Homo sapiens: one gene and its partner. The protein of the gene in region 1 purifies or fractionates together with the protein of each later gene. This does not show direct contact. Each region holds a gene or a part of one and is shown in the gene's direction. Other genes may lie near its edges. The genes, in order: TOX4 and SERPINA12.

The links.
Region 2: the proteins of TOX4 (region 1) and SERPINA12 purify together in Homo sapiens (affinity purification with mass spectrometry; 2 studies listed by BioGRID and IntAct, with this or other methods). This does not show direct contact.

What each region holds. Positions count from the first base shown.
Region 1 is NC_000014.9:21,490,448-21,494,469, forward strand, and holds part of TOX4 (TOX high mobility group box family member 4), read left to right. Parts: intron 1-1,848; coding exon 1,849-1,929; intron 1,930-2,060; coding exon 2,061-2,810; intron 2,811-4,022. UniProt on the Homo sapiens protein: Transcription factor that modulates cell fate reprogramming from the somatic state to the pluripotent and neuronal fate. In liver, controls the expression of hormone-regulated gluconeogenic genes such as G6PC1 and PCK1.
Region 2 is NC_000014.9:94,502,970-94,506,469, reverse strand, and holds part of SERPINA12 (serpin A12 precursor), read left to right. Parts: intron 1-2,247; exon of another isoform or gene 2,248-2,437; intron 2,438-3,500. UniProt on the Homo sapiens protein: Adipokine that modulates insulin action by specifically inhibiting its target protease KLK7 in white adipose tissues.

The sequences.
Region 1 (4,022 bases):
CTGGGCAACAAGAGTGAAACTCCATCTCAAAAAATAATAATAATTGTTACAGAAGTACTGCATCTTTACAATAACTCTCAAAAATAGCTACCATTTCCCGCTTTTAAGGTGGAAACTGGAGCCCACTGCCCAGTTAAGGTCATATAACATTTAAGTGGTAAAGTTGAGACACAATCCAGGTTCTTTAACTCTTCCCATGTACTTTCCACTAATAATGTCTCCTATAATTCCTCATGTAGTGTCCTTCTGTTCAATTTTTAGATATTTAACTTTTCTAAGTCTCATTTTTTCCCCCATTTATAAAATTAGGCTATTACTTGATAAGCTGCATGCTGTGGCTAACTCTCAAATCCACTACCAAGTTTGGATTTAGAATTACTTGTTTGTTTGTTTTTGAGATGGAATTTCGCTCCTGTTACCCAGGCTGCAGTGCAGTGGTGCAATCTCAGCTTACTGCAACTTCCACCTCCTGGGTTCAAGTGATTCTCCTGCCTCAGCCTCCCAAGTAGCTGGGATTACCGGCATGTGCCGCCACACCCAGCTAATGTTGTATTTTTAGTAGAGACAGGGTTTCACCGTGTTGGTCAGGCTGGTGCCAAACTCCTGACCTCAGGTGATCCGCCTGCCTTGTCCTCCCAACGTGCTGGGATTACAGGTGTGAGCCACCGCACCTGGCCTATTTTTTTTCTTTCTTTTTCTTTTTTGGATTTAGAGTTTAAAAACTTTTTAGAGCTAGCCCAGATTCAAAGGAGGGGGAAATAGGCTTCAGCTCTTGAAGGGAGAAAGGTCATATGGGAGGAGTTGTTGTGGCCATCTTTGCAAACAATTTACCACATTCCATAAGGGAAAATATACTGGTTAGACACAGTCCCAGGCTAAGACACAGTTTTTGGATTAGGGTTTATTTTGTATTTATTTATTTATTTTTTTGAGACAGAGTCTCACTGTGTCGCCCAGGCTGGAGTGCAGTAGCACAATCTTGGTTGACTGCAAGCTCTATCTCCCAGGTTCACGCCATTCTCCTGCCTCAGCCTCCTGAGTAGCTGGACTATAGGCGCCCATCACCACGCCGGGCTAGTTTTGTTTTTGTTTTTTTTAGTAGAGATCGGGTTTCACCAGGTTAGCCAGGATGGTCTCAATCTCCTGACCTCGTGATCTGGCCACCTTGGCCTCCCAAAGTGCTGGGATTACAGGCGTGAGCCACCGCACCTGGCAGATTAGGGTTTATTTTTGTTACAGAAGTGAGCATGGGTTGATGTTTGCCTTAAATGTAGCTATTCTCGGCCAGGCGTGGTGGCTCACGCCTGTAATCCCAGCACTTTGGGAGGCAGAGGCAGGCGGATCACAAGGTCAGGAGATCGAGACCATCCTGGCTAACACAGCGAAACCCCATCTCTACTAAAAATACAAAAAATTAGCCGGGCGTGGTGGCGGGTGCCTATAGTCCCAGCTACTCAGGAGGCTGAAGCAGGAGAATGGCATGAACCTGGGAGGCAGAGCTTGCAATGAGCCAAGATCACGCCACTGCACTCGAGCCTGGGCGAGAGAGCACGACTCTGTCTCAAAAAAAATTTAAAAAAAATAAAATAAATGTAGCAAAATAAAATAAATGTAGCTATTCTTGCCAGACTCCTGTCGATTGGTTGTCTTTCAGAGGTATGCTCAGTGGAGTGAGTCTGCCATGGAGGTTGTCTTGACTGTTAGCTTTCAGAATTGAATTCACTGATAGAGGTTGTCAGTGATTAGACTAAGATGAATTGTCATTCATTGATAAATAATACAGAACTATCAGTCTTTCCTAAGAGTATGGGGAGTTTTGTTTTTTTTTTTAAAGTCTCTTTTTTGCAGGTATATAAGAGGAAAACTGAGGCTGCCAAGAAAGAGTATCTGAAGGCACTGGCTGCTTACAAAGACAACCAGGAGTGTCAGGTAAGAGGGATAGGATAGAATGAATATTTAAACCAGTAAGAAGTTTTTTGGAAGTGTTTGTTAGCAGTTTTAAGAAGTAAATACCACCAAGTGATTGATTAATTGATAGATTGATTTATGTCTTCTTTTAGGCCACTGTGGAAACAGTGGAATTGGATCCAGCACCACCATCACAAACTCCTTCTCCACCTCCTATGGCTACTGTTGACCCAGCATCTCCAGCACCAGCTTCAATAGAGCCCCCTGCCCTGTCCCCATCCATTGTTGTTAACTCCACCCTTTCATCCTATGTGGCAAACCAGGCATCTTCTGGAGCTGGGGGTCAGCCCAATATCACCAAGTTGATTATTACCAAACAAATGTTGCCCTCTTCTATTACTATGTCTCAAGGAGGGATGGTTACTGTTATCCCAGCCACAGTGGTGACCTCCCGGGGGCTCCAACTAGGCCAAACCAGTACAGCTACTATCCAGCCCAGTCAACAAGCCCAGATTGTCACTCGGTCAGTGTTGCAGGCAGCAGCAGCTGCTGCTGCTGCTGCTTCTATGCAACTGCCTCCACCCCGACTACAGCCCCCTCCATTACAACAGATGCCACAGCCCCCGACTCAGCAGCAAGTTACCATTCTGCAGCAGCCTCCTCCACTCCAGGCCATGCAACAGCCTCCACCTCAGAAAGTTCGAATCAATTTACAGCAACAGCCTCCTCCTCTGCAGATCAAGAGTGTGCCTCTACCCACTTTGAAAATGCAGACTACCTTAGTCCCACCAACTGTGGAAAGTAGTCCTGAGCGGCCTATGAACAACAGCCCTGAGGCCCATACAGTGGAGGCACCTTCTCCTGAGACTATCTGTGAGATGATCACAGATGTAGTTCCTGAGGTGAGCCTTTGTTTTTAAGTCTTTAGTCTAGTGGAAATGTATAAAAATGTTTTTGGTTGACCCAATAACAGTGGGGGTTGCTACTAGCATTTAATGCCCAGCAACCAGGAGCACAAAACATCCTGCAGATGGGAGTTCCTTGCAGCAGTTGACTTCTCTTACCCAAGGTACTCATACTGTTTTTTTTTTGTTTGTTTGTTTTTGAGATGGAGTTTCACTCATTGCCCAGGCTGGAGTGCAATGGTGCGATCTCGGCTCACTGCAACCTCTACCTCCTGGGTTCAAGAGATTCTCCTGCCTCAGCCTCCCGAGTGGCTGGGATTACAGGCATGTGCCACCATGTCCGGCTAATTTTGTATTTTTAGTAGAGACGGTTTCTCCATGTTGGTCAGGCTGGTCTCGAACTCCTGATCTCAGGTGATCTGCCTGCCTCGGCCTCCCAAAGTGCTGGGATTACAGGTGTGAGCCACTGCACCCGCCCTGTTTTGTTTTGTTTTGTTTTGTTTTTCTTGAGACGGAGTCTCGCTCTGTTGCCTGGGCTGGAGTGCAGTGGTGTAATCTTGGCTCACTGCAATCTCCACCTCCTAGTTCAAGTGATTCTCCTGCCTCAGCCTCCCGAGTAGCTGGGATTACAGGCGCCCACCACTACACCCAGCTAATTTTTTGTATTTTTATTAGAGACAGAGTTTCACCATGTTCATTGGGCTGGTCTTGAACTCCTGACCTCGTGATTCGCCCGCTTCGGCCTCCCAGAGTGCAGGGATTACAGGCGTGAGCCACCGTGTGCCCCATAGTGTTTTTAGTGAGATACATTAAGACAGTCTTCTGCCCCAGACCACTCCTTAACTAAGCAGAGGTCACTAGTTCAACTGGACAGGATATAGCCTAAACAGTTATTATTCAGAGTTGTTACCCAAGGATCCTAAACTTTGGACATGCAAAGCTTTTCATTTCTCCTAGGTCTTAAGTTCCTTAGCTTGATGTTTTAAATGTGTGTGGGGCAGGGGGTATAGGCAGAAAAATTTAATTGGTTCATACCGTTATTTTTTAAAACAGACATAAATATGGCCAGGTGTGGTGGCTCACGCCTGTAATCCCAGCACTTTGGGAGGCCAAGGCAGGTGGATCACCTGAGGTCAGGAGTTCAGGACCAGCCTGGCCAACATGGTGAAACCCTGTTTCTACTAACAATACAAAAAATTAGCTGGGGCT
Region 2 (3,500 bases), about 73 Mb from region 1:
TATGACACAGTCCAGAGCACCCCAGCTAGGATCAGGTGCCTCTTGTGTGTTCTCACCTCCCAGAGTTACCTCTACCTTGGCCCTTACCTAGTGTGACTTGTATCTCTGTGTTCTGTGTTCCCATCAGACCAGAGCTCTTGGAGTTAGGGTGTGGCATGGTCACTAACATGTTTCTTCCATCTGGGAGATCCAAAGAGTGAGGATGAGGACCAGAAATTCCTAGCTCCCCTCTCACCCCTACACATGGCAATAATGTAAAAAATATTCAGGCCACCCCTCAGCCTCCGACCAGTGCCTTAGGCCCATTAACTTATAACAATAATCTTCCCAGGCTGGACAATCTCCTTCATCCTTCTAGCCCCTGATGAACACCAGGCACAAATCCATGGGACCTGAATCTTAACTACAGGCAGTCGGGGCAGCCTCAAGTCTAGGCTGAGGTCCCTTAATGGGCACGTGAAGGGGGCTGCTCCCTCCCATGCCTATATCCTTCACTGCTCTCCACAGACGTGCACCTCCTCCGGGGCTCTTTTCCCCAGGCAGGACAGGCAACTCCCAACCCAGGTGTAGCGCCTGGCTGGCCGGCAGCCCACCTGTGGCTACCCTCTGCCCATGGCCTACTGGCCTCTGGCACTGTCTGAACTCAGGCATCCCCAGTGCTGCCCGTGTCGCTCAGTGGGCATCCCTACCCTGGCCTCTTCCTGCATGTCTCCCGTGGAAATTTACCCTGGAGCAGAGAGTGTCTGGGGCAGGCAGGGAGGCATGGCCCTCAGACTCACACAGGCCTCACCCTGTCATTAGAGGGCAGGTTTTCCCTCCCAAACCAGATGTACAGACCTGGATTCTGGGTCAGTGTCCACCTCACTGGCTCTGATCTTCCACCACTATAGCCTCTACAGTCACAATAGGACCACCTGTACTCCTTGGTCTCAGCCTGTCCTTCTGTCTCCTCTGCAACCCCTTGGTGACCAGAGCCGGCCAGTGTGAAGTCTCTCATCTCGCCGTTCACATGGTGTCTTTGACCCATGCATCCCAGCAGGCAGGCCTTGCTGCCTGGGCGAGGGAAGGTGGTGGCTCAGGGGCATCTTCAGGGGTGGTTTCTGATCTGGGCAGCTCTGGAACCCATATCCCCATGTCCTTGTTCATCTAGGCCCTGAGTGCATAGAGTCTGTGGCTGAACCAGGCCTGGGAATGAACTAGTGTCTCCTCTTTCCAAGAAGGTTTGTCTGGGTCACCTGCTCTGAATAGCTCTGGGAATGAGAGTCATGTCTTTGCTAAAAGCAGCAACCCAAAGGAAGGGAAAACAACACCCATGGCTCTTCCGAGGCCTCCGAGGTGTTTCGATCAGATACGACCTACTGTGAAACACCACTCAATGGGGAAGAAATATGTGAATGTTTTTTCTGCTCACTGGAGCTCATTAGATTAAGCAGAATTGAAGATAGGCATGTTGAGCTTATTGCTCTTCCATCCCAGCATCAGTGGGTTTGGAATGTTCCCAGACATCTTCAATGCTTCTCTCTCCAAGTGGTAAAACTGAAGATAAGAATTTTATTTTATTTTATTTTAAGCCTTTGAAAAATTAATCCTAAAGTAATATCTGTTTTTTAAAGACAATTTGGAAAATATAGAAAAGTAAGGGGGAGGCAGAGACAACAGAGTTCAGCCATAGTCTCATCACCCCAGCACAAGAGAACCCAACCATAGTCTCACCACTCCAGCACAACAAATGTGCAATAGGAAAACAATTTGTAATTTCCATGATCATGAACTTTGAGGTGAATTTTTAATTCCTGTTCTTCCTAACGGAATCTACGCATTTAGTTGTCTATTTGTCTGTCCTCGAACTTTTTCCCCAAAGGACTCCATGTGAGCTAAGCTAATTTGGAACACATGAAAAAATAGCAAAAGAAAATGGTGAGGGATACATGGGAATGACCCCAAGAAGCCCAGTTATCAACCTGTTCCCATGGGCAGCAATGATGATACTTGGGTTGAATATTCAGTATTAGGACTCTAGGCTCATCTACTTGTAGACTATTCTGGCTTCCATACCCAGAGAGCAACTGGGAAATAGAGTCGTTGCAAAAGGTGTCTAGTGGACTTCATTAGGGAAGCCACAGCCCAGTGGGTGTGGCCGGTACGATATCATGCCGCTGCCTCCACAGGGAGAGCTCCCAGGGAGGTGGTGTGGCCATTGCTTCCAAAGCCTCCATCACCTGCCCATACACGCCAGCTCATTGTATTGGCCTTACTCTTCCAAGAGGCCATGGAAGTATAAATAATAAAGCAAGAAAGGCAGATGCATTTGGCTGGCTCAGTGGACTTCTGAATGTACTGTGAGTATGAGACCTTCCCTTCCAAAAGATCCGGTGCTTCTTGTCTATTCCACACGAAGCTTGCTTCAGATCGAGGGAGGATGTAGCACTGTCCACAGGTGGGTGTATGAAAGGAAAATTCTAGAGGATCTCCAAAATCCAGGTAAACCCCTCTTGAAGAATTTGTTGAACATCTTTGGCAGAGTGTTATGGATGTCTACTGCCCAGTGCTTTTCTAGAGAGAGAAGCTTCATGAATGTGGGGATGGGAGAAGTCTTGGGACATAAGTGGTGCCTCCAATTTGGGTCCACCCCTGCTGCATGATGCTGGCCACAGTCATCCTTGTGTGTGAGCTGTTTGTGAATCTTTATCTCTCTCTGAGGATAGAGGCTGGATCCATCAACTCACTGGTTCATGGAGAAAGTGAGGCGAAGCAGCCTGTTCAATGCATTTCTGCAGAATTGCCTTCACCACTGATGCACACTGCAACCACAATCTCTTCCTTTGTCCACTCTGGGCCTCATTTCCCTCTTTATGGCACAGATAGTCCTGAAGTCAATGATCTCTCAGCCTTTCCAACCCACATACCCCTCCTCCTAGAATGCAGTCACGGAAGGGGAGGAGGACCAGGTCAGGCAAACAGCTGGAAGGTTCTTGAGGGTTTGGAGAAGGCTGTGGGGCTTGTTGGGCTGAGAGTCAGTCTGCAGCATCAATATGGACCATTTCCTGGGCATTGCTCTAGTGCCCCAGTGCCTGACACAGAGTGAGGACTCAAACATATTTCTTAAGGAATGAAGGCAGAAATCTACAGGGCAAATTAACAAGTGGAATGGGGACATGTTCTCCACTCTTTGTTTTCCAGAAAGGAGGAGAAAGTATATTGCTGTGGTCATCAGAGTTTGTTTATGGGGCTTCTCTTACTTCTAACAGGGGAGAGAAGATATGTCTTACCACCACTTAGTTCTAAATGTGCTTTTAAAAATAATAATTTAATTTCTGATGTATATAGAGTGATTTCTTCTTAAAGCAATATCAGTCCTTTAAAACAGGTGAGCCACAGAGCAGGCCTGAAGTGGCTCTTCAAGTGCAGGGCTCTTGTGAGGGTCTTCTGTTGGGAGGCCAAGGCACACCTTTAGCAAGGATTCCTCAGATTTCTCAGCCCAAAGAAGGGCACCGGGTTTA